2 separate regions of the Homo sapiens genome follow, and region 1 is linked to region 2. Evidence: fine-mapped expression QTL. A gene starts in region 2. The other region holds a variant in brackets. All regions are shown on one strand. Distances are between the middles of the regions.

Region 1 (15,485 bases), 86 kb before region 2:
CTGAAGTACTGCCTTCTGATAAGTCAACTTGATGCAATGACAAAAGTTAGATAACGGTAGGCAAAGTTGGAATTGGCATTAGAAAACCTTTCAGCAAGTGCTGGGTCACAATAAATGTTTGGTTGCATTTTCTGACAACTCTTGGAAGTTCCAGAGTTAATCCTGTGTTTCAGAAATTGTGGGACTGACCCACGAGCTTGTTGCACAGGTAAGCCATCCTGTTTCTGAAAAGAGGTGGGTCACAAAGTGCCCTATAGGGAAGACCAAATAATTCCTCTAAAAGGATATTTGAGCCACCAGAATAACTTGAATACTTACTTACTCAAGTAAGATCCCAGAAGTTTGGGTCTTTAAGCATGAAAAAGATCATTTTGGTCTATAACATGGAATGTTGTTGCCACCTGGACTACTTCATCTCAGAGAACCACTGTATGGCATCTGTATAATGTAATTTTGAATACACATATAATGTCACATGTCCTAGGCATATCAGAAAATAATATGCCTAGGATGGCTAGACTGTAAGTTCCCCTCCCTCCCCTTACTCCTCTCCCATGACTTTAGAGGTGATCTACTTAATGGCATTTATTCGTCTGGCTTATACACTTACACACTGTACAATATCTGCAAAACAATTCACAGTAGGGTGTCTTTTTATTTTTTTTTTATTTTTTGAGATAGAGTCTCGCTCTGTTGCCCAGGCTGGAGTGCAGTGGTGTGATCTCAGCTCACTGCAACCTCTGCCTCCCAGGTTCAAGCAATTCTCCAGCCTCAGCCTCCTGAGTAGCTGGGATTACAGGCACATGCCACCATGCCCGGCTAATTCTTGCATTTTTTAGTAGAGATGGGGTTTCGCCATGTTGGCCAGGCTGGTCTCGAACTGCTGACCTCAAGTGATCGGCTCGCCTTGGCCTCCCAGAGTGCTGGGGTTACAGGTGTGAACCACCGCGCCCAGCCTATACAAAGTTTTAAGAATAACCATATGATTAATTCCTGCTATACTTCCCTTCCATTGAAAAATGTTTACAAACAATATAAGGTTTCTTGTGGAGTTTTCCAATCTCTCACCAGTCTTTCATTACACAAAACATCTGTTGATGCACTTGGGGATGAATAACCTTTCAATTGTTCTTGGTATTAAACAGTTCTGACAGAAATTGGCCAGTATATTTAATTGTTTAAGGCTTTTCCTCAAAACCATATTTTCCTCATAAGCTTGCAATGACTTGGTAAAATCATTATTGCACATTTCAATATAAAGGGCTCCAGATCACCAGAGGAATATGGCAAGACATTTACTGAGGGTGGAAAGAGATCAAACTGGCTGCGGTCACTGGAATGTTCTAGCTCTGAAAGCGTGTAAGTAGAAATTCCTGAGACTAAGGGAAAATTTCAGATACTACAGTTTTCAGGGTATCACTGGAAGTGAGACAAACAACTGCTGAGGCATTGGTGGGGATCTATGTTTCTTTTCTTCTTTTCTTTTCTGTTCTATTTTTGAGATTTTGATCTATTTGATCTGAGTGTGTAACTTTATAAATATTTTTCTGCCTCTCCCCACCCCCATTTAAAAATTTTCCAATTTGGAAGTCAGCACTTCCAAACTTTGTGAATATTTATAAACAATGAGAAAGTTCATTAATAGCACAAAGAAAGTTGCCATCAAAATATGTCACAACAAACAGCGCTCAGGAAGAGGCAGAAATACAGGCATGGATGGTCTCTGGATCCTGTTCTCCATGTTATAACTTTTGTCATAACAGATATACAACTTGCTATGGTCCTCCTATTTGAAATGAAGTGAAAATATGTACCACTGATATTTTAAACAAACAAAATCAGGTTAATTAATTCAAATAAATATCCTTTATTAAAGAAAAAGAGGAATATTGTTAAAAGCACCAAAACTGTAGGTTGTTACATTGCATGTACAACAAGAGAAAGGTGATTGCAATACTTGGTGTACAAGTACTTAACTCTGAAGTCATGAGTGTAAAAAACATGAAATACAAAGCAATACAATTACAATGCAGAAAAGCTGCACTAAAGAGCAAAAGGCAACAGTCAAAACGATTACTGGAGATTTCATGGTATTGCTATAAATGCTTGCTTAGTTTTTCCTCTGTACTTTTAATACTTTAGGATGTTAATTGAACATATTTAAGTATTGTAAATTTGCAAGAGTTGGCATTTACAATACACTGTGCACACTGTCCATTTAATGTAATGGTACTAAAGCCATCCTTACAAGCCAAGCAAAGCACAATGTGCTAGTGTTTTGCTTCTACCTTTTATAATATTGCACAAAGCTAGTAAATGGTGAATGAGTTTTCCATTAAAATTTTCATTTACCCAGAACCGATAAAAATCATGTCAGTCTCCTTAGCCCTAATGGGCAATTAATTATTCATGCAAAATAATCTGCAGCCTTCCATTTTTCATTAACTACATATTATAGTTTGCACACTTGGAAAGACATATAATACAATGAGAAATTCAATGAAACAATGGAGATTCTGTCAAAGTTAAAGAACTCAGAAGTCACTGTATGGGTAGCATCATTTACCCCTCTTGGTTCACAAATGAAGGGAAAATGCCACCTAGTGATTATGCAGACTTTTTAAAACCAATATAATTAGTATTGGGAAAAGCTGGAATAATTTGTTACACCCTTTGATAGCTACCCATAGAACATGCAAGTAAAAAAAAAAAAAATCCCCAAATTTCCCTTGTTAAAACTGAACTCTGTAACCAACATCCATACCTTGTGTTTTCATCTACACATCACTTTTCAAGGTCTTTCCTATCCACCAATTCCCCCAAATTTAGCCACTCTTAGTGTGCCTAATTAAAAACAACAAAAAACACCAGCAAAAAACAAAACTTTCCCCTAACCCGCAAAACAAATGACTGCTTTGAGATTCAGTGTGAAATAACATTCATCAGTTATTTAACAAGTCAACCTCAGAGGTATTTTCTGTACATGCACCTTACAGTGGCATAATGTCTCTGCAGAAGGGAAGAGACAGTATAAATTTGGAATTCAATCAATTAAATCCTACAATTGCGAAGTTGTACATTTACTGTGGGCAAAACGTAGAAAACTTTACAATAAACACATCTTAAGAATAACCCAATGGGGAAACTTTTCATACATTCACACACACAAACGCACACTCTCGCCGAATCTAGACTCCCTCCCGCCTTTCCAAACCCTTTGCTTACATAACATAGTTTAGGCAACAATATAAACTCACTTTGTAGGAAAACTTTTAAATTACACTATATCGGATAAAAAATACCATTGCTTCATTTTACAAAGCAATTAAGCAGTGACCCTTCTTAATGTGCTTTAACTAAAGAGCACTTTGCAGCAAAGTTCAGAAATAACTACTGAATTGTTCAGTAGCACTAAATAGATGCAACATGCTCTAACAGTAAGGTGCTTCCACTTTCTCACCCCTTTTCCATCTGAAATAAATCTTGCTGGTCACTCCTCTAACCATAGCTCTTTTTCTATGCTAAGCAGTAAGTGGGAAATAGAATCTGTTTAAAATGCACACTTAATTTTATGTTATCATTTACATTTAGTGCAATAATTAGGTAAAACTTAAGGTTTCTGCTTTCATTATCAAATGGCTGCATTTTAACAATGTGTCTGCAATGGTTTTGAAATGTCTTACAGCTGTTCATTTTTTACAAGTAACCTGGTAAAGCGTATGAAATTTCAACTCCCTGATAGAGCCCTTAAGGACCCAATAGTACTTTTTACACATTGGTATCTGATGTTAAGTTTGTAATACTTCAATAATAAAGCTGAAAAAAGAAAACCCCAAAAACCTTGTATTTAGCTTTGCCTAGGCTAAAAGCATTGACTTAAATTTATACAAACACTCATGTGACTGTAACTTAAAAATGGTGTCTTAGGGAATGTGTAAAATTAAATTGTATTAATTGTATACTGATCCCATTCCAAACAGAGAGAATGCTGCCCATTAGTTTTTGTTTCACTGATTTAAGAGTTTTAATTCTTAGTGTCTACTATGGCCCAAGTATGCTTTGCAACTTGACACACATTCTGTGATATAAAGTGGCCATGCCATATGTTACCAAATATTACTACATAGTTCAACTTTGTGGAAACAATTTTTTTCCTTATTACATAGAGTAAGTCAAAGTGCTGAAAATTATTTTCTGGTTTTGTGTTATGAGAAAAGCTCTACATTTCTATTCCCACTATTACAGCTGTGTCTAGGAGTCTCCTTTTAAAAAATGCATTACAGAAATATTTCAGTTCCACAATGAAGAATTAAGGAATGATTGTTTTTATGCTGCTCACAAACTCAGTAAGCCTATATAATACAAGCAAAACCATTCTTCATCTTTTAAAAAATCCTCTTTAGCCAGGCATTCCTCATACTGCTGTAATATACACAATGATTTTAAATAATTAAAAATACCTTTCCTACACATGCTACATTGGTTATAATTTTGGTTGCATTAGGAGCCATTTGAAATTGACAGTCAAGTGGGCAGTAACATTAATCTCAAAATGTCCCAAACTCATTTACTTGTTTTACCTATTTTAAATGCATTGCAGTTGAGACTAGATTGGAAATTAACTTCTAAATTGACTCAGCATAAGCAAACAGCGGTTTGTGGATACAGAAATCATATATTAACAGAAATGTGTCCAATATTTTGAAGCACATAAAAAGTACGGGCGAGTTTGGAACTGGAAATGTGAGCATCTACAAGTACCATCATAACTAAATATACACATATTTAGTATCAAGGCCGAAGATCCTGATTTTATTAGAGGCAAGAAGAAAAAAGGACATTTAACCAGGCTTACATAATTTTTGTTGGGTTCTGAAGCTACTTTAAAATTAACAGGTGGGTTCCACTGGTAATGTCATCTTGATGGACAAGTAGACCCTAGTTATTTGAAATTTTATTATTATTTGTGAGTAACTCCAAAGGTTTTTGACCTGCAATCATTTGAAATTTTGTAGAAGTAGGAACCTGCACCTTAAGGCAAGGAAATGGGTGTGTTGGAAAGTTATTTACAAGAGGATGGGCATAGCTGGCTGCCAACAATACTCTGCTTTAACCTCCTTCTTTTCCAAGTGTGAGGTGACTCTCATGGAGAACTGTAACAGGATGGGTTGAGAGACTTGTAGATGTATCCATGAGGCTGAGTGGAGTTCTACACACCCTCCACCCTCCACTCTTTGCTAGAGACTTATGATTACAGCACACTCTGGAAGACAGACCACAGGACATATGTATAAAATGAGCCTATTTTATAATGAAATCCCAAAAGTAAAAGAGTAGCAAATTCCCTCTCAAGATATGAATGTTCCAGGGTTTCTGGTTAATTTAACATTAGATCCGTCCGTATTTTTCTGAATTTGAATAAATGAAAAAAAGTGAACCAGCACCCAAAGAACTGGATATATGAAATGTTGACACATGGGTACGTAAAAACTGGATAGCATAAAATTGATACATGATTTTGTAAAGGTTTGCAAATTTGCTTTAACTTTTTCAAATATATTCATATAACCAATCACTCTTTGGGTTAAGAAATACGCTTTAATATTTTACCAAGGGCAAATAGGACACTATCACCACCCCCATGCTGTTGAAGCTTCCATATTACATCTGTATTTCTAATCTTCCCAGATAAGATGTGGGAATAGTGTGGGAACTAAAACCAATGTATTATGAAGATGCTGCAGAGAAGCTCCTAGTCTCATCAATAAACGTATTACTAACATTTAAATAAATAAAAGATTTTGTCAGGCTGGGCACAGAGGCTCACGCCTATAATCCTAGCACTTTAGCAGGCCGAGGCTGGCAGATTGCTTGAGTCCAGGAGTTCAAGACCAGCGTGGGCAACATGGCAAAACCCTGTCTCTATAAAAAATATAAAAATTAGCTGGGGCATGGTGGCATGTGCCTGTTTTGTTTTGAAATAATAAAAAAAGTTGTTGTCTTACATAACCTGTTGCCAGAAAATTTTCTCCCTAATTATTTTCAAGAAAACACTTTAAAATAACAAAGGTGTGAGCATTTCTTTTTTTCTCTAGGAATACCAATTCATATACACTGGGCTTTTGCTCCAGTACTGCTTTCTGGGTTTAGGCCAGATAATTGTCTTAAAAGAAATAAAGTGATTTTTGGTATTTTAGTTCTTAACTCCCTCCACAGAAAGGCCAAGATCTGTCTTATGCAGAATTATATGTACAGGGTACTGCACACTGAGTCCAATGATCTACATGTATTCAAGCCCACAACAATCCTGCTGAAAATCTGGAACATATAAATGTGTCCTTCAGGACTCCATCACAGCCAAAATCAGCACCTAAAGCTGTGTATAAGTTTAAAATTTTAGTGACTATAACAAAGGCATTCTCCCAAAATTCCATTCAGTGCATGTGAAGATGGTGAAATGCCAGCCACGGAGACTTGTCTCTACTTTCTATCTTTGTAGAGCACATGCTTTTCACTGTGGAGCATAAAAATAAAAACTTAAAATGGTAATTTGTGAAAAGAGTTAAGATCTGCATCCCTATGATTGAATCTTGATTTTTGATTCTCAATAGGAAAGTCATGTCAGTCATAGCAATCAAGCAATAATTCAAACAAAATAAAAATAATTTGAAATATTATCAAAGTACTGCCTTCCATAAACAAGGATGCACATAAAATTCAAACTATTATAAATTCAAGAAATATGAAGAGTGATTTAAAAGCACGGAAACTTCAAAACCTTACAAAGTATAAGACTCCTAAAAATATGCCATGTTAAATGTATCATGTTGTGAACATATTAATAGATGTATCTCCATAAATGCAGCTTTTCAGATGTTGCTGAACATCTTTATGAAAAATCCTTTGGAAATGAGTAATGCGGACATTTTAGGTGTATTTCCATTTGATTTTAATGCCTGACTTACAGCTATCATGATGATAAACTTTCTCAGAGTGTCACAGTATTTAATATAAGCTGATATGGAAGAAGCTATTTTTTCAGATGACTTTTCAGTGCATTGAAAGATGGTTCTCAAAGCAGTCCCAATACAGCTCACAGTAGATCTCTGTCAACCCAGTGTTCTTCCAACTTACAGCAAGCCCTAGCTTAACTGGCCATTACAAGGATGTAAATATGTGGATGGAAGGAGAATGTGCTTAAAAAACAGAAATCTCCAGAAGGCCTTTTCTTCATTGCAGTCAGGAACATTGCACATGTAAAATTCATGTTAACCATCATCTATTGGAACGACTGGAAAGTGATAACCTGCCAATTGTGCTTCCTTTCTTCACACCACTGAACCAATGAACTTTGGATCTAATGTTATCCAACTGAGGAACCAAGTGCTTAAACTGTCATTTTCCAAAAGAATCAGAACCAATCTTGAATGATATTTTTCTTCTGTTATGTCACCTGTTTACAAACAAAATAATACAGACCATTAAAAAAAAGACCCTTTAAAGATACAGTGTATTTACGTTCCCTCAAAAAGTGTAAAAAAGACATTTTTTACAAAAGGCCATGACTGTATTCTTAAAGCAGTAAAAATGAAAACAAAATAATCTAAATACAGATTTTGATCACTTTTAAAAGACTATTAGATTTTCATTTTTATTATTTTTACTCTAACACTGTATGAAAACTATATACTAAAAAGGTAAATTCAGTCTAAACTATTTGCCCCATAAACTGCTACTAGAGTAAGAACAACTAAATGGTGTCTTCAAAATGCAGTAGAAACTGTTTTTGTTAGACTAACATTTAGAGGACAGGATTAATACCAATCTTTAAATGGATACTTCACCCGGGCATTTTATTGAAAAGTGTTGTGCTTAAGATCTATGGGGCGTACCCAAAGCACAGGAGCATTTATATAAAAGACATACTCTTCAGATAAAAGCTGACAGGAACATGAATAAAGTACCAACTTAATACAGTTCTGCATTTTCTAATACTGTAGCTACATGTGGCTAATGAGCACTTGATATGTGTCTAGTGTGACTGATCTAGTTTGATTTAAATCCAGTTTGATTTAAAAATCTAAAACAGTAAGTACTATTTTTCCATTAAATACAATTTTGCTGTTTTGGTAGGACATTTCTCATTAAGTATCAGATCCTTAGCATTCAAACTGAGATGTGCTACTAGTATATATAAAACATACACTGAATTTTGAAGACTTAGTGTGAAAAAAAGAAATAGAAAGCAATGTCCTTAGTTTTTAATGTTGATTATGTGTTGAAGGATACTACTTTGGCTACATTGTGTCAAATAAAATATTACAAACATCAGTTTCACATGTTCCTTTTCATTTTTGATGTGACTATTGGACATTTTAAAATTACATGTCTCAAACTATATTTCCTTTGAACTACATTGCTATAGTTACTTTAGAAGACTCCTACAGGGGCCTAGCACAGTGGCTCACGCCTGTAATCCCAGCACTTTGGGAGGCTGAGGAGGGTGGATCAGTTGAGGTCAGGAGTTCGAGACCAGTCTGGCCAACATGGTGAAACCCCTCTCTACTAAAACTTCAAAAAAATTAGCTGGGCATGGTGGTGCGCCTGTAATCCCAGATTGAACCCGGGAGATGGAGATTGCAGCGAGCCAAATACGGCGCCACTGCACTCCAGCCTGGCTGACACAGTGAGACTCCATCTCAAAAAAAAAAA[AAAGAC/C]TCTCACAGGAAACAAACTAGAAGCTTATTTATTTATTGAGACAGATTTCCTCCTGCCTCAGCCTCCCAAGTAGCTGGGACTACAGGTGTGAGCCACCACGCCCAGCTACTTTTTGTATTTTTAGTGGAGATGTGTTTCGTCATGTTGCCCAGGCTAGTCTTGAATTCCTGGGCTCAAGTGATCCACCCACCCCCAGCCTCCTGAAGTACTGCAGAATTACAGGCCTGAAACTTAAAGTTCACACTCAGCCTGAAACTTATTTTAAACCTCTATGTAATTACATACATTTTAAGAAATTTCCTTGAGCATGACTATGGCTATCTCTGGAAAGAGAAGAGTTTCAGAGGGGAACGAACAAGGCAGAACAAGGGACCTTCATTACCTACTTTATGAATATTCAAGAAATTAGCTCTTAAAAGTATATAAGTACATTAATGACAAAATCTATAATCAAGAAATCTGGCCAGGCACAGTGGCTCACACCTGTAATCCCAGCACTTAGGGAGGCAGAAGCAGGTGGATCACCTGAGATCAGGAGTTTGAGACCAGCCTGGCCAACATGGTGAAACCCCATCTCTACAAAAATACAAAAATTAGCTGGGAGTGGTAACACACGCCTATAATCCCAGCTACTCCGGAGGCTGAGGCAGGAGAATCTCTTGAATCACGAGGCACAGGTTGCAGTGAGTCAAGATCACACCACTGCACTCCAGCTTGGGCAACAAGAGTGAAACTCAGTCTTGAAGAAAAGAAAAAAAGAGAGAGAGAAAAAAAAAAGGAATCTAATAAATTAATGGGAAATACAAATTGCGGTAAAGCCTTCTTAGCCATTTGTAGATAAAAAGTTCACAGCCTTTTAGTCTCCATGATCACAAAGTAGTGATACACAGCTACTTCATCACTGCCTAATCAGTCCATACTAGTCTATGGTTTGCTTCTGGGTTAGCACACATTTAGTAAAGGGAGACTGCAAACTTCCAAGCTCATATATTTTCTAAGTGTTTCACTGTTTCTCTCTCAACATTGTACCACATATTCCAGCCATCAGCCGTCTCCCACACCCCCGAAAAAAGTTTTAAGCAATTTTCAAAGTGTATACACCATGCACCATGTTAACATCTGATACTAAGGCTAAATTAGTAGCCAGAAGCTATGAGTAACATCCCAGCCACTTGAGTATACAAAATGCTGATGCAATGTCTAGGGTTAGGCAGGATATGGTGGGATGGGAGGAGACAGACAAGGATAGGCTGACTTGAGCAGCTGCTGGTGTGCTGTGAATGGGCCACTGTGGACCATCTGTAATGAAAGAGCTAAACACACATTTATGTGAAGGTCCAGCTGTGGAATTAGTCAGTGCAAAGATGGTAGTTTTAGGCACAAGCTTAAGCAGCTTCCTGAGAAGCTACAGCAGAAGGAAACAACACATGGTAGTAAGAACTGTAAAGTGGGAGACAACCTACAAATATCCACTATGGAAAAGATTCCCAGTTAGACATACCTGAGAGTCTAGACATTCACAAACTGATATGCATCCCTCTCTCTCTCTCTCTCTCTCTCTCTCTCTCTCTCTCTCTCTATATATATATATATATATATTCCTTTACAAAGCATAGTGGACATATGTACAAGCAAAAATAACTCGAAGTTACTTTGGGATCCAAAAACATAAGTCATACAAAGTGACTGTTACATGTAACTGTATACATAATAGGAAAAAAAGCAGGATAATGCTACTACTGAATGTTGGCTGAATCATGGTGAATGTAATATTACCCTTTTTAAGTTATTGATTGATGCAGATGCTGGTGGAGAGGTACTACAGGAATATTTACCTAATGAACCCATACCCAAAGGAACAGGTGAAACTGCTTTCAGTAATATTTTACCTAATGTAACTAATAGAATCTTTCAATATGTAATCAGTTGTTTAAAAACTGACATACATTACATTTTTATATTATGTCTTCAAAATCTAGATGTGTACTTGCATATACATTAGATCTACTCAGAATTCTTTTTTTTGGGCCAGGCATGGTGGCTCACACCTGTAATCCCAGCACTTTGGGAGGCTGAGGTGGGTAGATCATTTGAGGTCAGGAGTTCGAGACCAGCCTGGCCAAGATGGTGAAACCCTATCTCTACTAAAAATACAAAAAAAAAAAAGAAAAAAGAGCCGGGCATCATGGCAGTCGCCTGTAATCCCAGCTACTCAGGAGGCTGAGGCACGAGATTCACTTGAACCCACGAGGTGGAGCTTGCAGCGAGCCGAGATCATGTCACTGCACTCCACCCTGGGTGAGAGAGTGAAACCCTGTCAAAAAAAGATTTTTTTTCTTTGTTGTTCTACTCAGAATTCTTAAGTCAAGGACAGAATGTCCATTTTTAATAAGCTCCCCAAGTTAATTCTTATGATCAAACATGTTTTAAGAATTATTATGCTAATCGGGGCAACCATAAGGAGACCCTGTCTCTACAAAGAAATTAAAAAATTAGCCCGGCATGGTGGCATGTGTCTGGAGTCCCAGCTACTTGGGATGCTTGATCCCAGAAGGTTGAGGCTGCAGTGAGCCATGAACGTGCCACTGCACTCCAGCCTGAGCAACAGAGGGAGACTCTGTCTCTAAAATAAAAAAAGAAATTCAACAAAAATAATTCACAGGGCTAACACATGAATTAATTATTCCTTTACTTATTCCCTTCTAGGACTCAAGTCTTCCCTACTTTGGTGAATGTTTGAAGCCTAGAGAAACATATTCCATCAAGAAAGAATAATAATTAATAGAACATGTTTGTATACTCTATAAATTTTATACAAATTACAACATTTCAGTTACCATCATTATAAATTTGATATACTGTTTAATTTATACCATGTTATCTTTAATGTTTCTATATATTTGGTGTAATCTGTGCCATATTACTCTATAATTAGTATATTAAAATGTAGTAGACTATAGCTCTCTATTATATTAGGAGAATGCTACATGTGTAACCAAAGAGAATCTTAATATGTATAGGAGTATTCATTAGATATGTAGATAATTTTTATATATTAATGATACCTGCAAATTTGTCTAGATAATACAGTAACTGTGACAATAAGTAGTTTTTTTTAAGGGTTTAGAAAGTTAAATAATCAGACAATGCAACAATTTTTCCAGAATGATCTTAGAAAACTCCTTTGAGGTCAGCTAACATGACATCAAAATTCAGTGTGCATAACAGTTTGTTACTGAAATACTTTGTCAGAAAAGGCTTTGCATTAAAAAAAAAATTGACGTATTGATTTCTTTTTACAGACGGGGTATTGCTATATTGCCCAGGCCGGATTTGAACGCCTGGGCTCAAGAGATCCTCATGCCTCAACCTCTGAGTAACTGGGACTACAGAAGCGAACCACTGAACCTGGAAAGCCTTTTTTTTTTTTTTTTTTTTTTTTAAGACTGAGTCTCACTCTGTTGCCCAGGGCAGTGGCACGATCTCAGCTCACTGCAACCTCCGCCTCCTGGGTTCAAGTGATTCTCTTGCCTCAGCCTCTCGAGTAGCTGGGATTACAGATGCCCGCCACCACGCCCGGCTAATTTTTATATTTTTAGTAGAGAAGAGGTTTCACCATGTTGGCCAGGCTAGTCTTGAACTCCTGACCTCAAGTGATCTGCCTGCTTCAGCCTCCCAAAGTGCTAGAACTACAGGTGTGAGCCACTGTGCCAGGCCCTTTTCTGTTTTTTTAGGGCAAGAATGAGACTGTCACTTTACTTGCAATTACAGCTGTATAGCAGAAATTTTTAATGAGGAGGACATTTTTAAAAATAGTATTTACATAGCAATAATCATTAAAAAGTTATCTTAAGTTTCTAGAAACTACAGAATTAAGTAAAACCTGAAGTTCATAAATTTGTGATCCATGCTAAAATTGGGTTATAAAACAAACGATATGCCTCAGGCTCAATAAAAAATACCCCAAACCTCATCATCCGATATAAAACCTGTATTACTGAATGCTACTAAAGACAATAAGGCCGTTTACTTGTTAGTTCTCCCAGTCTGTGCAAGGTAAAGCCTCCTCTTCGTCCTCTGACTCTGGGGATGCTTCTTTAATTCTTCTAAGAGCTTCATGGATGCTCCGTGTTAGAGGGTCTGTATCGGGTAGAAGTGTGAAGGATTCTCTCAAAACATCCTTCTGTACCTTCTTCAATTTTACCCCTTTCCTTATTTGTGCCAAGATATTATTACTATCATCTTCATCAGGAAAAGGAGGCAGAGTTCGCTGTTCAACCTTTTTCAGATGAAAACTACCACGCTTCAAGGAGGCTAGCACCTCATCCATGGGTGAGCTCACTTTGGAAAATGAAACAGAACAGTATTACAGTTAGGACTGCACTTAATTAGAATGAAACTGTATAACCTCTACCGTTCGCAACTGTGAAAGCACAGGACGCTGAAACACCATCTTCAAAATGGATCATGAAATGTGTGCAGAAGGTGATCAGAACACAAGGGATCCTAATTATCCTTCTTTTTAGAAAATCCCAAGACCCAATCCATGGTGGGTACTGTTGGTATTCCTATCATTTCCTACATGAGAGAAGTGACCAGATTGGGAACTGGGAGGTGGTCTTAGTAGTATTATGGGTGTGATTCCCAAAGGATTTCCATATTGCAGTTGCTCCACCCAAATTCAGAGTGATGGGGTTACACATTTTGTTTTTAAAAATTAATTTTTGTTTATTATGGAGACTGTGCTTTTTTCATTTAGTTGTTTTACATGTGAAATCCTACTCAGATTACATCAAGAAATGTTTTATAGAATGGTCCTTCAGGTTAAAATGTAATATACAAGTAATATGTAACATTTATATAATGTTCTCCCCATGCAAAATGCAAATTCCTTAAAGGCAAAAGGCAAGGGTTATTCTCTGCTCTTTTTAGAAATAATTTTATTTGTGCTTGAATCTCTCTTAACAAAAAAAATTAGAAAAAAAAATAGTAACCTTATTGAGGCACATCTGTCACATTGTAAGTTGAACAGATTACTCCCTGTTCTTCTTTGCTTCTTTATACAAATACACAAAAGTCCTCAACAAATGTATGAACAAATGTTACATGATCCTGCCAATGTCTTCCCTGTGGTGACAGTCCTTACCAGATATCTTACCCTTTCTGATATGAGTATTTTTTTAAAAATCTCAGGTTTAAAATCAAAACTTTTTCCCTAACACAAAAGGAGCCACCCATTATACATTACCAAACATGAATGTATCACTTTAGAAGATCTGTTTTTAAAACATGCCTAACAGCCCAAGAAGGCATACATTTCTGTGTACTTTATGCACTAAGAATTCTCCTCTAGTGTGACTTTGAAAACCTGTTTACTATCAAATAATGTCAAAAATAAAGTGTTTTAAGCTTTGCAACGTCAAAAAATATAGTTTTTTACTATGCCTGATGTCATACAACAGATGGACCATGAAAATATGTTGACGTACCTCTCCTCCTCTGCAAACCTTCAGCAGTCTTTCTGAGCTTCTTCCGTGCACTGACCAGCTGGCTGCTGTCAAAGAGGTGTGCTGAGGGGGCACTGGCTGACTTTGGGATCCTCTTCTCATTCCCCTCCTTTCTAGGCAGATCTTTCTCCAGTGTCTCTGGGCCACTGTCCTTAGCAACAGGCAGAGGTGGTGGTGGTGGGGGAGGGGGAGGAGGTGGGGGAGGTGGTGGTGTTGGAGGAAGAGGGGATGGGAGTGGATTTATGGTAACAGAACATGGTTCGAGGTTGTTATTCAAAAGTGGAAGAGATATAGTGGGAGGCAGTTCAGAGGTAACACCACTGAGAGGTAATGAGGTGGCTTCAAGTTGTGTTAATGAAGTATCTTCAAGTTGCACAAGGCTCTGGGGTTCTGTTGTCTGTGATGGCCCACGCTTGACTCTTCCTTCTCCCACCTCTTCAGTTTTCTCTTCTACCTGTAACACACTTGGTAAAGAGTCACAATGATCCTCTTGGAGAACAGGACTTGCTGCACCTTTTCTTCTTGCATGAGCTAGTCGTAATCTGGTTGATTTAAGTATGACTTGCCCAGGATACCTCTAAAATACCAGAAGTTATTGGAACTGGTTAAATGTTATTGAAACAATTTATGAGCACATGCCTATTTATTTTCTCCTTCAAATAAAAGATGTTATGTGGCCGGGTGTGGTGGCTCACGCCTGTAATCCCAGCACTTTGGGAGGCCGAGGCGGGTGGATCACCTGAGATCAGGAGTTTGAGACCAGCCTGGCCGACATGGTGAAACCCCGTCACTACTAAAAATACAAAAATTAGCTGGGTGTGGTGGCAGGCACCTGTAGTCCCAGCTACTCAGGAGGCTGAGGCAGGAGAATTGCTTGAACCCGGGAGGCGGAAGTTGCAGTGAGCCGAGATTGTGCCACCGCACTCCAGCCTGAGTGACAGAGTGAGATTCCATCTCAAAAATGTTATGTTGGCTTATTGGTTATTTCACCCTTAAAGTTATACAGAAAATCCGAAAGTACCTAATAATAGCTTACAAACAATTATGAATTTATTATTTGCCTATCAAATCCACGATTGATAATTCAAATATTCAAAATTATGATTAAAAAAAGATTTTTAGTGAATAAAACTACTAAATGTATAAAACAAATAGCATGTAAAATGCAAAACATAAGTGATGTCAAATGTATAAATGCTACTGGTATGCAAAAAGTTTCCTATGTTTTCAAATGCACACACGAGAAAATTAAAATATTCT
Region 2 (15,485 bases):
ATGTCCTCAACATGTAATATCCTATTTTTCAATACTTCCAGTCAATGCAGTCAAGAACTGCCAGACAGAGCAGCTCTCTTCATTGGAATCATATTATATCCTTCCCTATAAATAGCAGCCTGCTTCCACCATTTATTTATATGTAATCATGGGTCATGGCTTGCTGGCCCAGTGAAAGACAGGTGGCGTCCCAAGACTCCTAAAGTACTGTCATTTCTCTAATGTATATAGTTGGGGTTTCAGCAGGGCTTGAGTTTTAAAACTAATCTTAGGTTTTCAAGAAAATTAGAAAAGTTATTTTCTAAGGACCCAAAGGTATCCTTGGGAGGACACCTGTTAAACAAAACTTCCTCCTAGAGCTCCTTGCCCCTTGCCCCTTCAGTTAAATAACCTCAGAAGTCAGGAGCTGTTTTCCAGCTTAGCCATTAAGATACAAAAACAAAACAAACAAAAAACTTCCCCACAATTGGGCACTCTTCTCTAACATAAACCTATCCTTGCACCACTAGGCAACACCTTTCTCTAAAACATCACATTCAGACTGCCCTACCTCATGCTTGTCATAATTAATTCGAAATGAGTTATCCTAAATCAAAAGCAGTTATTGAGTGTTTGCATGCACGTGTAATCCCAGCTACTTGGGAGGCTGAAGCAAAAGAATTGCGTGAACTTGGAAGGCAGAGGTTGCAGTGAGCTGAGATACTGCCATTGTACTCCAGCCTGGGCAACAGAGTGAGACACTGTCTTTAAAAAAAAAAAAAAAAAGTCATTATTGAACTGACTGCATTTTAAAATAATACCACTCCCCAATTCTCAAGAGTAGAGATTGACATCCTTTCTCTTTAAGGAAGGAATACAGTCCCTTGGATTAAGAACCCCAACAGGCCACAGGCATGGCAGAAAAGGCACACGTTTGGATTAAGACAAATCTAGGCTTTCATCGGAGCTTGGTTACTCAGCTGTTTAGCCTTGGTGAAGTCCACAGGACCTCTTTAAGTCTCATTTTCTGCCTCAGTAAAATAGGTATAAAACACCCACTGATCTCAGCAGATAGTGAATAATAAATATTAGTTACAGTCCCCACAAAAAGGGCTGAATGGAAAACCAGATAATCCTTGTTACATGAAAAAAGGGAAAATAACACTTCCTGGAAGCCTCTTTAGTAAGTGCCAGGCACTTTGTTAGGCCCTTTCTCATACTGTCTTACTCAAATCTTAAGACATCCTTTATTTCCCCCACCTTCCTTTTTAAAAGAGGTTAAATAACTAAGCAGGTCATCAGAAGTGGTTAGTCCTATTTTCAACCTAGGTGTTTCTGACTCCACTCACTCAACAGGCTATTTATTATGTGGCTTACACGGATAATTTTGAAAACACATGCTACTTCCAAACCGTGGTTTCAACAGAAGAGAAGTTAGAATTGAGCACATCTTTATAAACATAATAAATTCCAAAATGAACACTGATGATTAGATCTTAATCAAGCCTACCATCATAATTAAGGTTTACTATCTAAAGCACCACAGTTAATCATCTTGAGAATAGCTGTCCTTATACAGAAACCATTATTTATAAAATCCAGGTCAAACCTAAGCTGCAGTATGGGCCACCAACGCACATACACTAATACAAACCTCAGCTCTGACCAACAACCAAGGCTACTGCTGAAAACTGTTCAAAGAGGTCTTGGTGGCACCTGCATTCATTTAAGGACTGATTCAGTGTCTACTGTATAAATACTGCTTCCAATAGTAAACTCTTGTAAAAGTCCAAATTCAAACATACCAGTAACAAATTTCACCTTTCACTTGGATTTAGCCCCTAAGAAGTATAATGTACATTATAGCATAAACATAACTTTTAAACGCACTGTGAAACCAAAACATTCCTGTGACTCACATTATTGCCTTTCTCTCTAAAATGCACACATGCCCACAGATATAAAACTCGGCAGGACGCCCCATTAAAATCCATCCATAGCCCCTCTTACAGGGAATTCACCATCCCCAAGTAAAAACCTCTTACTGAGGAATTTATTTATGTTTTAAGAAATTTTCCTTTGAAGTACTAAAAGAAAATTTCTCGTTTTAAAAACACTGTCCTTTGAGGAATTTACACTTATCAATTTATAAAAATTTTACTTACAACTTCACATTAAAAGGACACATCTTCTAAGTCCTTTAAATTCTTGCAATAGTAAGAATAAATTAATTTTAAAAACTTCTCTAGTTTCCTTTATCCACTAATTAAGAGTGCTCACAAGATGTGTGGTCCTGAACTAGGGGTGGCAAAGAAGAGAGTTCCAAGGTATTGTCAAAGCCAAGGACCTTGAAAAGCTTACAATCTAGTTGTACAGTCTGTTCTATTAAAAACAAACAAAAAAAAGTTCAACAACTTACTAACCATTTTGAACAAAAACAGGTGATTTTAAGTTGAAACCTTTAAATGGACAGGGAAAGGAATACTGTAGGAAAAAAGACCAAAAAATAGATTCATAGAAATTAAAGAAGGAAAAGGACTAAGTATTGTAAGTGACCAAAGGACTAAGCATTCTAACATATCCTCAAAAGTAACATATCCTCAAGAATGCATTTGATTTATCAGATAAACCTAGCTTGAAAAGCTATAGCCAATTCCACAAACTAAGTCAATAGAATAACACAAACATGGCACAACTTCTATAAAAATGTTACCTTAAAAAATGTTACTGCAAACTATTAAGAAAGCAAAGTTAAATTTAATTAGCTTAAGACAAATACATGGCTAGCATCCTATACACTTTCATTATCATGCCCATGGCAGACATCACCAATCAATCACACCACACTTCCCTCCCTCCCCCAATATAATCTAAAGACACAATCTTCCAGCAGAAGTCAAGATAGGCATTATTACTGAAACTATTTGTTGTCCTTGATGGCTATTTTTCAAATATTGAAGTTGCCGGGTGCAGTGGTTCACGCCTGTAATCCTAGCACTTTGGGAGGCCGAGGCAGTTAGATCACCTGAGGTCAGGAGTTCAAGACCAGCCTGGCCAACACTGGGAAACCCTGTCACTACAAAAATACAAAAATTAGCCAGGCATGGTAGCGGCGACTGTAATCACAGCTACTTGGGAGGCTGAGCAAGGAGAACTGCTTGAACCCGGGAGGTGGAGGTTGCAGTGAGCTGAGATTGCACCAGTACAGTCCAGCCTGGGCAATAGTGCAAAACTCTGTTTGGAGGGGGCGGGGGGAGGCTGGGTGCGGTGGCTCACGCCTGTAATTCTAGCACTTTGGGAAGCTGAGGCAGGCGGATCACCAGGTCAGGAGTTCGAGACCAGCTTGGCCAACATGGTAAAACCCCATCTCTACTAAAAATACAAAAATTAGCCGGACAAGGTGGCACACGCCTATAATCCCAGCTACTCAGGAGGCTGAGGGAGGAGAATCACTGGAACCCGGGAGGCAGAGGTTGCAGTGAGCCAAGATCGCGCCACTACACTTCAGCCTGGGCGACAGAGCGAGACTCCATCTCAAAAAAAAAAAGAAAGAAAAAAAGTATAATTTTCTGTTAAAGAAAATAAATCATTATGGTCAAGAGAACCTTAATTAGGAACACATTTTTTAAAAAATGTAATCCCCTTTTTAAAGAGTTCTAGAAAATTATATTTTTTGAGAGCTTATTTTTGACCCATTTGAATTAAAAAACCGGAGATAGTCGCTTTTTCTCTTTTTCTTTTTCTTTTCTTTTTTTTTTTTGAGACGGAGTCTCGCTCTGTCGCCCAGGCTCGAGTGCACTGGCATGATCTCAGCTCATTGCAAGCTACGCCTCCTGGGTTCACGCCATTCTCCTGCCTCAGCCTCCCAGTAGCTAGGACTACAGGTGCCCGCCACCACACCCGGCTAATTTTTTCTTTTGTATTTTTAGTAGAGACGGGGTTTCACCGTGTTAGCCAGGATGGTCTCGATCTCCTGACCTCGTGATCCGCCCGCCTCGGCCTCCCAAAGTGTTGGGATTACAGGCATGAGCCACCGCGACCGGCCTGACAGTCGCTTTTTCTGAGTATCCAAAAAGTTACAATCAGACAGGCCCATTCATTAAGGGATTTTTAAGAATATGTATTTTAAAAAATATATCTGTAAATCTAATAAGAGAAAGAAGCACTAACGGTTCTTGCAGTTTAAGAGAAATACAGGTCAATATTAACCAAACACTTCTGAGAATATATGTGGTCACTTAAGATTTGTCACTTCCTTCAAAATAATTTAAGGTAGACTCCCGAAGTGAGGTGATAAAAAAGGGAAATAAAAACAGATCCCTGGAACTCTAGGATCATGTTATAGTGGGTGACATTTAGCATACAGTAAACCAACAGGAAGCAGTGAAAATCTGGATTCGGGAAGTTGTAAGAGAGTACTATGGTATAAGTGAGAAACAAACATTTCTTAAATACTCAAATCTAATAAAGAAAAATATCTAATATTCTACGAAAAAAACATGAGGCTCTAGCTCCCTAATCTAACAACAAGGTTCAACTATTATATATACATAAGCAGATAACAACACAATCTTAGGAATATAAACACCATTAAAAGGGGCATTTCAGGCCGGGCACAGTGGCTCACGCCTGTAATCCCAGCACTTTGGGAGGCCGAGGCGGGCGGATCACGAGGTCAGGAGATCGAGACCATACTGGCCAAGATGGTGAAACCCCGTCTCTACTAAAAACACAAAAAGTAGCCGGGCTAACGTGTTAGCCGGGCGTGGTGGCGCGCACCTGTAGTCCCAGCTACTCAGGAGTCTGAGGCAGGAGAATCGCTTGAACCCGGGAGGGGGAGGCTGCAGTGAGCCCAGATGGTGCCACTGTACTCCAGCCTGGGAGACGGAGCAAAACTGCTTCCAAAAAAAAAAAAAAAAAAGAAGGCGCGGAGGGCGGGGGTGCATTTCTCCACCAATCTCAATTGCATTAATAGTAAAAACAGTAACTTGCTTTGAGAAACTACGTGTAGTAGTATCCATTAGGGAAAACTGGGTCTATTTTAAAAGACTTTTTTAGTAAAGTTCCTTCAGCAGAAGCTAGTGAGCAGGCATGAATTACACATTTCCTACACATTCTAGAGCCCCATATGTATATCCATTCAGACCCTTTCTTCCACTTTTTTTTTGTTATTTTAAGGATTAGTTTGAAAAGGCTTTTGTACTTCTACAGTAAGTACAAAAATACAACGAACATTCCTGCCCAGAATCTTTATTTCTACCTAAAACAGCAGTGAAACCTGAGCCATCTGTAAAGACCTGAGGTAGTCCAAAAAAAAAGAAACAAAACACTTCTAAAAAACCTTTTAAAAATAAATTTGCATCCGATAGTCACTAGGTGCTTTTTCACTTAGGTCACTCGTTTAAAAATGAATTTAAAATTTGCGTAGGTTGCCACACTGCACAAAGAAGAATCAAAACAGATCAACTTTGCTCCGTAAGACAAACTATTTTAAATAAAGGTGACAAGGACAAAGAAGAGTTGACATCTGGGCAGTTATTGCTGGAAGAGCTTTAGGGGTAGAAAAATGCTCAGGTAGCCCATGCTTACAGAACACTTTTCTTAGTGGCTTTAATTGCGCATTACCAGTACTGAGTAGTACACAGAGCGCACTTACTACTTTTGATAAATGGGGGAGGAAATAAAGACGAAGGTCCTTCAGAGAGTCAATTAAGCAGCCACCGAGAGGGATGAAGGGCAAGGTAGATCAGGAACCCCTCTTGGTTTCCGCTTGTCCAGAAAAACAACCGTCCTACTGCGCACACCCGACACCGAGGCTCCAGCCTTTGGTTTGGCCAGTAAACCAAAAGCGACCAGTAGAGCCCAGACTAGGAGCTCACTCACTCACCTCCTGGATGCGCTTCCTGGCCCGCTGAAGCACTTCTTCGTAGCCCTTCTGCCGCAGCTCGCTGAGGCTTTCGTAATACTCCTCGGGATCATCGGTCTCGGTGAAGAGCACCTGGGAGAGGATCTTCCAGCCGCAGGTGTCCAGGCCGTGGCCCAGGTAGACCTGGAGCTGGTAACACAGAGTGTCGATTTCCTGCTCGGTCATCTCGGGGGCGCCCCCAAACAGCACAGTCCACATGCCCGAAGGTTCCTCGGGGAACACCGGCAGGCACGGCTCCAACTGCGAGTTCACCGAGCACAGCTGCTGGTGCACGGCGCGCAGGTCCTGGAAAGAAAACAGTCCGGCCCAGCTGCACTCTTCGGCCGGAGACTCCAGCTCGGTGGCGGGCGGCGGCTGCTCCGCGTCCGAGAGCGCCAGAGGTGCCTCGTCCTCCTTCACCATTTCCAGCACCTCTATCTCCTCGGAGACCGTCCCAGAGGCGCTCACTATCCGTACAGAGGACACCTGGGCCTCTCTGGGCGCCGGCCGGGCTGCTGCAGCGGCTGCCCCCGCCGCATCGTCGGCTTCAGATGTTTTCTGACCCGGGATGGGTTTGGCCCGCACTGGGCTCCTAAGACGACTCTCCGCCCCTTTGCTGCCAGGACTCCGCAGCCGCGGGTCCCCCAGAAGGCTGCGAGTGCTCCGAGGAGAGCCGCCCTCCGCCCAGGCCGAGCTCCGCCGGGGCCCGGGGCTCCTAACCAGAGTTGCAGAGGCAGTGGCCTCGGGCCGACCCCTGCCCGCCGGGCTGCCGGGCCCGCGGCTCCCGTCGGACGCAGCTCCGCCGGCCTCGGCGCCCCCTCGCGCCCCCGCTTGCTCCCGGGAGCCGCTCCTCTGCCTCTGGGCCGTCCGGTTGTGGCAGGTTATGGCAAACTTGCCCTCAATCTCGTTCCAGGCCACAATAAAGACGAATTTGTGTTTCTCGCGCTCGTCGAACACATGGGGCCGCACAGCCACCCAGTCCGACTCGAGCGTCTCCTCCAGCGCGAACGACATGGTGGCTCCGGCTTCTCGCCGCGGGGAAGGGCCGCCGGCCCGGCCCGCCCGAGGACTCCCCGCTGGCTGCGCCGCGCCCCCCGCTCACCCTCGCCGGGCGCCTTCAGCCATCTTAGTGCGCCGGCCGGCTCTCCCGGCTCGTTCGCCTGTCCCTCCGCGCCCCGACCGCCGAGCTCCTTTGTGGCGCGGATCGAGAGAAGGACAATAAGCGTCCCGGGAGCAGGTAGTTCACATGGTCACCTGCGGCCGGATCTGTTTACAAGCTCCGCGCTGCCGCAGCGCCTCGCGGCCGCCCGCCGCCCCCCGCGCGAGGCCGTGGAGCTGCGTCTGCGGCGCTCCGGTGGTGAGGCGCGGGTCCCGCGGGGTCAGGCCGGCGCTGTATGCGTCCCGGTCGCTCGCCCAGGTCAAGATCCCCGCCCCCGCCCCTGGTGCTGCTGCAGAAAGCCCGGAGCCGGCCTGACTGATGAACCCGTCTCCTAAACTCTGCGCCTCAGCATCGCCACAATGTTGCCATTCGACTGCTGACGTCGGCGGCTCCACGAGGGACGTAAACATGGGCACGTGCCGCACGCTGGTGACGCGGCGGCGGCGGCGCGCGCACCCCGCCCGCGCGCGCCGGCGCCTCCTCTCGGCGTCCCCTGAGCCAGCCCGCGAGCGGCCGCGCTCCCGACTCTCCTTCCTTCCGCGCAGCCTCCAGTTCCCCGGGGCTGGAGCCGGCTGTCGGCTGGTTGCCGGCTCCGAGGGCGATGAGAGTGGCAGGTGTGCCCTGCTGCACAGGTGGCCTCCGAACCCGGGAAAAGAGGAACTAAGGCGGAGGAACTGAGACGTTTCGAATTCCAGGTATTGAGACCCTCGAATGTACATTTGCCTCCATTCTCCTGGAGGGAGCCCGGACGGAGAGTCGCTCCTGCGTTCAGAAGTAGCGTGTTGCCGCGGGGAACGGTGTGCTGAACTATGTGGGGCTCGCCCCCAGCCTGTTAGGTTCTCCCCTAATGCCCTTGAGACCAAAACAAAAAACAAAAACAATTCCAGAAGCTTTTCTGGAAAGACAGAGTTTAATATATGAAAGGAAGGTGTCTGAGGAAAGCCCAGTAACAGTCCAAAACAAAATGAAAAATGAAAATGCCATGTCCTAACAGCATGAATGTTTACATTTCAGTTCATTGGTGTTTTATTGCTTCAGGTTTCATCATTATGTACTGTTCTGTGAACCTCGTTTTGAGGTCACTGGGCTTTAGCCCTTTTGAAGTTGTATTCAATTATGGGAGTTCCCAGAATGCATATACAAAAACAGTCATATCAATCTCTGCTATTCTTACTAAACTATGATGAAACACATTCTTAAAATTAGTAGACTTTATAATAATTATTGGCATTCTTTTTCCGATTAGTATTCAAGTCACAGATGTTGTGCACCATAGTAAAGCACAATGGAAATTAGTTCTTTTACATTTATTCACATTTCTAAAGTATATACAAAACCGTTTGGATTAGCCTTGTATTGTTAGGTTCAGTAAAAACAGCTGTTTATTCAGATGACAGAACAGTACTGAACTAGCTAAGCTTCAAACTTAGTTCAGTATTGTCCATCTTAAACTCTAAGCTTCAACACTTGGTTCAGTATTGTCCTGATATTTGAATAAACAGCCAAAAAAAATTTTTTTTTTGAGACAGAGTCTCACTCTGTGGCCCAGGCTGGAGCACAGTGGCACGATGTCAGCTTACTGCAGCCTCTGCCTCCCGGGTTCAAGCGATTCTCCTGCCTCAGCCTCCCAAGTAGCTGGGATTACAGGCACACACCACCAAGCCCGACTAATTTTTGTATTTTTATTAGAGACGGGGTTTCTTCATGTTGGCCAAGCTGGTCTCGAACTTCTGGCCTCAGGTGATCCGACCGCCTTGGCCTCTCAAAGTGCTGGGATTACAGTCGTGAGCCACTGAGCCCAGCTGGTTTTTAACATTTTGTACAGTTCATTATTTGAAACCACAAATTTTCAAAGTTTGTAACTGAGTTTGTGTCAAATCTCAAATGCAAGTCAGAGACACGTTCTGAAAGGCAAAAAAGAGAGAAAACCCATTTCAAATCTGAATTACGGGGCTGGGCATGGTGGCTGACGCCTGTAATCCCAGCACTTTGGGAGGCTGAGGTGGGCAGATCACTTGAGGTCAGGAGTTCAAGACCAGCCTGGACAACATGGTGAAACCCCGTCTCTATAAAAAATACAAAATTAGTCGGGTGTGGTGGCACGTGCCTGTAATCCCAGCTACTTGGGAGGCTGAGGCAGGAGAATTGCTTGAACCCGGGAGGCGAAGGTTGCAGTGATCTGAGATCATGCCACCGCACTCCAGCCTGGGGGACAGAGACTCCACCTCAAAAAAGAAAAAAGAAAAAAGGTTTGAATTACCAGCTAAGCAAACAATAGCACATTGTAGAAAACTTTCTCTTCTTTTTTGCTAAAAAGCAACTGCAAAAAGCTAGTTTTTCTGATAAAGCATTACTGACATGATCCCATTATGTATAATTGTGAATACAGAGAATGAGTATTAAAAGAATTTGTTTACAAGTTCTCTTCAGAGTAGAGGACAAGAAAAAGAAAAAAATTATTATTTAAAAAAATAGTCCGGGTGCGGTGGCTCACGCCTGTAATCCCAGCACTTTGGGAGGCTAAGGTGGGCAGATCGCAAAGTCAGAAGTTCGAGACTAGCCTGGCTAACATGGTGAAACCCCGTCTCTACCAAAAATCCAAAAATTAGCTGGGCGTTGTGGCAGGTGCCTGTAATCCCAGCTACTCGGGAGGCTGAGGCAGGAGAATCGTTTGAACCCGGGAGGCAGAGGTTGCAGTGAGCTGAGATCGTGCCATTGCACTCCAGTGCCTGGGCAACAAGAGCGAAACTCCGTCTGAAAAAAATAAAAAATAATAATATTTTGGCTGGATGGCTGGACACAGTGACTCATGCCTGTAATCCAAATGCTTTGGAAGAATTGCTTGAGCCCAAGAGTTTAAGAGCAGCCTGGGCAACATGGGGAGACCCTGCCTCTACAAAAAAATAAAATAGACCGGGCGCGGTGGCTCCAGCCTGTAATCCCAGCACTTTGGGAGGCTGAGGCGGGTGAATCACCTGAGGTCGGGAGTTCGAGACCAGCCTGACCAACATGGAGAAACCCCATCTCTACTAACAATACAAAATTCACCAGGTGTGGTGGTACATGCCTGTAATCCCAGCTACTTGGGAGACTGAGGCAGGAGAATCTCTTGAACCCGGGAGGCGGAGGTTGCGGTGAGCAGAGATTGCTCGATTGCACTCCAGCCTGGGCAATGAGCAAAACTCCGTCTCAAAAAAATAAAAATAAAAAATAAAATAAAATAAATAGCTGGCCATGGTGGTATGCACCTGTGGTCCCAGCTACTTGGGAGGCTGAGGTGGGAGAACTGCTTGAGCTCAGGAGGTCAAGGCTGCAGTGAGCCATGATCGCACCACTGCAGTCCAGCCTGGGCAACAGAGTGGGACTCTGTCTCAAAATAAATAAATAGACCAGGTGTGGTGGCTCATGTCTGTAATCCCAGCACTTTGGGAGGCCGAGGTGGGTGAATCACTAAAGGTCAGCAATTCGAGACCAGCCTGGCCAACATGGTGAAACCCCATCTCTGCTAAAAATACAAAAATTAGCCAAGCGTGGTGGTGGGCACCTGTAATCCCAGGCTGTAATCGGGAGGCTGAGGCAGGAGAATCACTTGAACCTGGGAGGCAGAAGTGGCAGTGAACCGAGATTGCGCCACTTCACTCCAGCCTGGGCAACAGAGCAAGACTTCGTCTCAAAAATAAATAAATAAATGGAAATAAAGAATGTTATAAGAAATATTTTATGTGCACGTATATTAAAATTATAATATTTCGTCAAGTGGTGTTAAGAGTAAAATAACATGAAATTATATTTATTCATGGATAGAAAATTTTATCTTATCAGAATAGTGATACACAAAATTGGTTCACAGTTACACAGGTGTTAAGTATTTCCTCTCAATACACTGGCCACTGTGTTTTGTCAAATGAGATGTTTCAGTGTTTCTTGTTCGTGCTATGTTAGTAACTGTTATCCTAGAAATGAAGAGAAACAAACCAAAATTCCCATGATAGGTTACTATAGTACTCTACAATTCTTTGTTTAGGTCTGTATCTGATTGCCAAGCAAGATCTCTCAGTGTATAAGTTACTCCCTGGGAATAAGCAAAGCTACAGAAAAACCCCACATACACCATACCAGCCTTCAAAGGGCTTAAAACTATTATCTGTTTGAAGTTTTTAGAACTATTGTGCATCTTTAGGTAATTCAGGAAATGCTTTAACTCTTTAGAACTTTTCATAAAAACTATAATAGTTTACATAGTGATTTTCAAATTATATAGCATTTTCTCACCTCATAATAACCATGAAATGTAGGTATGAAAGGAATAAGCATCTTTAATTTATATAGGAGAAAACAGCAGTTCAGATTAGTTAGGTTACACATCCCAGGGTTGGGAGCAGGGAGCAACTTCAGTTCCGGGGTCCATTTGCAAATCCACTGGTGTCTCAGTTAGATTCTCCCGGAAGCAGACACTGAGAAGTAGGAACGCAAAAAATTTATGGGGTGCCGGGTGCGGTGGCTCATGCCTGCAATCCCAGCACTTTGGGAGGCTAAGGTGGGCGGTCACTTGAGGTCAGGAGTATGAGACCAGCCTGGCCAATATGGTGAAACCCCGTCTCTACTAAAAATATAAAAATTAGCCGGGCGTGGTGGCACAAGCCTGTAGTCCCTGCTACTTGGGAGGCTGAGGCACGAGAATCGCTTGAACCCGAAAGGTGGAGGTTGCAGTGAGTCGAGATCATGTCACTGCACGCCAGCCTAGGCATCAGAGTGAGACTCTGTCTCAAAACGAAAAAAAAAAAAGTATGGAGGCGACCCCTGTGGAAGAGAAGGGGAAGGGGCAGAGGCAGAATCAGGCAGGCTAATCCAACAGGGAGTTCTGAGGCAAAAATTTCCCTTAAAGAAGTTCCTCATGGCCAGGCACGGTGGCTCATACCTCTAATCCCAGCACTTTGGGAGGCCAAGGCGAGTGGATCACCTGAGGTCAGGAGTTCAAGACTAGCCTGACCAACATGGAGAAAACCCATCTCTACTAAAAATACAAAATTAGCCAGGCGTGGTGGCGCATGCCTGTAATCCCAGCTACTTGAGAGGCTGAGGCAGGAGAATCACTTGAACCCAGGAGGAGGAGGTTGCAGTGAGCCAAGATCACACCATTGCACTCCAGCCTGGGCAGCAAGAGCGAAACTCTGTCTCAAAAAAAAAAAAAAAAAAAAAGAAGTTCCTCTCATTGGGTAGATATAGCCAGGCCTTGCTCAGTCATTGGCTGGGGACCACCCTGAGAAAAGCACAGGATAAAAACCTGAAGCTGATGCTGAAGACACTAACAGGTGGGGAGTGTCCACTTACCATACTCCTTGCAGCTGAGGGGTGGCTCCTTTCTAGAAGGGGGATCTAACTGACACATCTTCACAACTGCCACAGTTTACCTTGTGTGCCACATGGATCCACTTCATAAAAACACGTGGGAAGCATCTCCTCTAGGGCTCTGGTAGGCCTCTGTTCCCGAGGGAAAACAAAAGAGGGAGGTTATTGGGGCAAACTACAGCCTCCATAGCCACAGCTGATCTCGCAGCCACAACTGGTGCTCCTTTTTCTCTTTTCTTTTTAATTTTTGTTTGTTTGTTTAAGACAGGATCTTGCTCTGTCACCCAGGCTGGAGTGCAGTGGTGCAATCTTGGCTTACTGCAGCATCTACCTCCTGTGCTCAAGCAATCCTCCCACCTCAACATCCTGAGTAGCTTGGGACCATAGGTATGCGCCACCACGCTCAACTAATTTTTTTTTGTAGCGACGGGTGTCTCCTTATGTTGCCCAGACTGGTTCCGAACCCCTGAGTTCAAGCTGTCCTCCTGCCTTGGCTTACCAAGGTGCTAGGACATTTACAAGATACACAAGCAGTAAGGGTGCACCTAGCACAGCAGTGGTCCTCGGAAACCAAAAGTGTTCTCCCCACTGGAGGCCACATACAAGATTCCATCTGTATCTTTTTCCTTCTAGTAAAGCTCTCCTATAGTTAGGCTGGACTGTTTTTTGGTTTTTGTTTGTTTGTTTGTTTGTTTTTTGAGATGGAGTTCCGCTCTTGTTGCCCAGGCTGGAGTGCAATGGCACCATCTCGGCTCACTGCAACCTCTGCCTCCCAGGTTCAAGCGATTCTCCTGCCTCAGCCTCCCGAGTAGCTGGGGTTACAGGTATGTGCCACCATGCCTGGCCAATTTTTTGTATTTTTAGTAGAGACTGGGTGTTTCCATATTGGTAAGGCTGATCTCGAACTCCTGACCTCAGGTTATCCAGCTGCCTCGGCCTCCCAAAGTGCTGGGATTACAGGTATGAGCCACCATGCCTCACCAGGCTGGACTGTTTTATCCACAAACAGAAGATGCCTTTTCAGAAGGAAGATGGATCCTTTTTGTGATGATCCACAAGAACTGAGCCACAGATGGAACTGAATGGCTGTCAGATGGAACCAAGTTCTTCCGTTTGTCAGTGTCAACAATCTGAGAGCCTGAGACTTTTTTTTTCCACAATCACCGGAACCCGGTCAGGATATTTTACTCTGATCTTCGGGAACTGCACGCATCTGTTTTCTAGCGAGTGGTTCTCCTTGAACATCCACTTCAGGGTGGTGGCAGGGAGGGGACATAGCCGGCTCTAGAAACCACAGAGCTCAGCACAACCACCATGACAACAATGGCAGTGGCAACAACACACAGGCCTGTTCTTTACTCTTAAGGGAATGTCCTGACCACAGGATGTGCAGAAACTTTACTGAGGTAGAAAGTACCTAATTTTTTTACGGTTTATCTCGCTCTAGAGTGCATGTGCCTTACCAGCATTTCCAGCATGATAGTATTCTCTTACTAATCCTGGCCTGATCAGCATGATGTCATCAATGTAATGAATGAATCAACATGATATTCTGCAATTTGTCCAGATGGTCCCAATGTCTTCAGGCTATATTATGACAGATGGTCAAAGAATTAACATGGCCCTGGAGCACATTGTTGCTGATCTTCTTTCCTAACTGAGATAGAAGAGAACACATTTGCCAAATCAGTGGCTGCATACTGTGTACCAGAGACTGTATTATCTGTTTTAGGAAAGACACCACATCTGGCCAGGCAGCTGTGATCAGGTCTATTTCTTGGTTGAACGTTAGTCTCCAGGATCTGTCTGGTTTTTGCAAGGACCAGACCAGCAAATTAAACAGAGGTAGGTTAGGGACCAGCATGCCTGCATCTTTAAGAGTGGCCCTAACTTCTGCCATCCCTCTCCAGGATTATACTGGTTTTGATTCACTATCTTGGTGGGAGGGAGGCAGTTTGGGAGGCTTCTACCAGACCTTCCCCATTATCATAGCCCCCACCAACAGGTACAGCCTGTGGGTTACTCTGCCACAGTGTCAATCCCAATGAGATATTTGGGGACCAGGGAAATATTCACCAGGTAGTTTCATAGACCACTGGACTCACTCCTGGGCCAGGGCTTCATTTACTGGCCCCTGTAGGCCCCCCCTCTAACACAGCCCATGATGATGTTTCCAGTCATTGGGTATCTGTGTCAACTTGGACCCTGTCTCCAGAAGTTCCTGGAATGTTGGAGTAAATCCCTCACTCCAGTGAACAGTCACTCATGTCTTCCACAGAAGAACTGGAGAAATCACTATGTATTGCAGGGTTCTTGGTACTGGGATCTGGCCATCTCTTAAAGCAATGGGCACTAGGTCTGAAAACTGATTTAGGTGCAGAAACTGGGCAAGAGAGATCCTTTTGGGTAACTGCCCTCAACCTCCTGCTCATCTACCCTTGCTCTATTTTGATCATGTACATTAAGCAGTGCCTGTTGGCTGCCCAGCTATTTTGCCCCCAGGGATGTTGTTTTCTATTAACCATAACTGTGGACATTGTGACCCTCTGGCTTTTGGTGGTGAAGTGCTACCACCTGGCCTCTGTTGTTCAGGTCTTTTCATCGCCATTGCTATTCGTGAGCCAAATTATGTGACTGCTTCACTGACCATTAACCCTGGCCTGTGGAGGAGAGCCACACTGAACTTCATCACCATGCTAGGGCCCCTGCCATCATCATATTACTAATGCTCTTGGTAAATGTGTGTCCTTTGAGCTTTCCTGGAGAACATACTCCTTATTTTGGCCCCGTGTAATTTATCCATTCCAGCATTCCCACTTCCTGAGCCTTTTACTCCCTTTCTCTTCCCTATACCATGGGAAGCATTTTAATACAGTCTCTGTGAGGGCCATTGCTTTTTTCAGGCTTCTAGGAGTACCCTGGTAGCAAGTTTCATCATCCCCTGGATGCAGCCTCACTCCTTGCATTCAGTAGCAAATTCTTTAAGGGGGATCTGAGCAGTTCGTGTCCTGATCTGCTATGAGTACCCTTTTTGGTATTGTACATTATATCAATTATGGCCAATTATCCTTATTTTCAACTCCCGAGTGGCTA

Direction of the effects. Alleles are on the strand shown, and positions count from the first base shown. SD is a standard deviation of normalised expression in the study named.
For the expression in monocytes of the gene that starts at base 7,418 in region 2, allele C in region 1 goes with a lower level than allele AAAGAC (moderate effect, 0.67 SD a copy in Schmiedel 2018).

What was found.
Region 1: its variant is fine-mapped to the expression of JMY in monocytes (Schmiedel 2018, PIP 0.90).

The regions. Positions count from the first base shown.
Region 1 is chr5:79,313,574-79,329,058 of GRCh38, reverse strand. JMY (junction mediating and regulatory protein, p53 cofactor) reads right to left here. Exons shown (of 11, transcript NM_152405.5): 9 at 14,208-14,802; 10 at 12,749-13,059; 11 at 1,848-7,453. The coding sequence ends at 12,752. LOC102724530 (a long non-coding RNA gene) reads left to right here. Exons shown (of 3, transcript XR_001742756.1): 3 at 11,425-12,050. Among named protein-coding and RNA genes, the nearest start is that of JMY, 85 kb to the right of the region's middle. The variant AAAGAC/C (reference allele first, on the strand shown) is at 8,713.
Region 2 is chr5:79,228,064-79,243,548 of GRCh38, reverse strand. JMY (junction mediating and regulatory protein, p53 cofactor) reads right to left here and starts at 7,418. Exons shown (of 11, transcript NM_152405.5): 1 at 5,867-7,418. The coding sequence starts at 6,898. LOC124901011 (a long non-coding RNA gene) reads left to right here and starts at 7,526. Exons shown (of 2, transcript XR_007058836.1): 1 at 7,526-7,738. RefSeq lists silencers at 5,889-6,183, 6,467-6,736, 6,907-7,346, 7,377-7,426, 7,467-7,516 and enhancers at 5,857-6,276, 6,328-6,964, 13,773-13,852.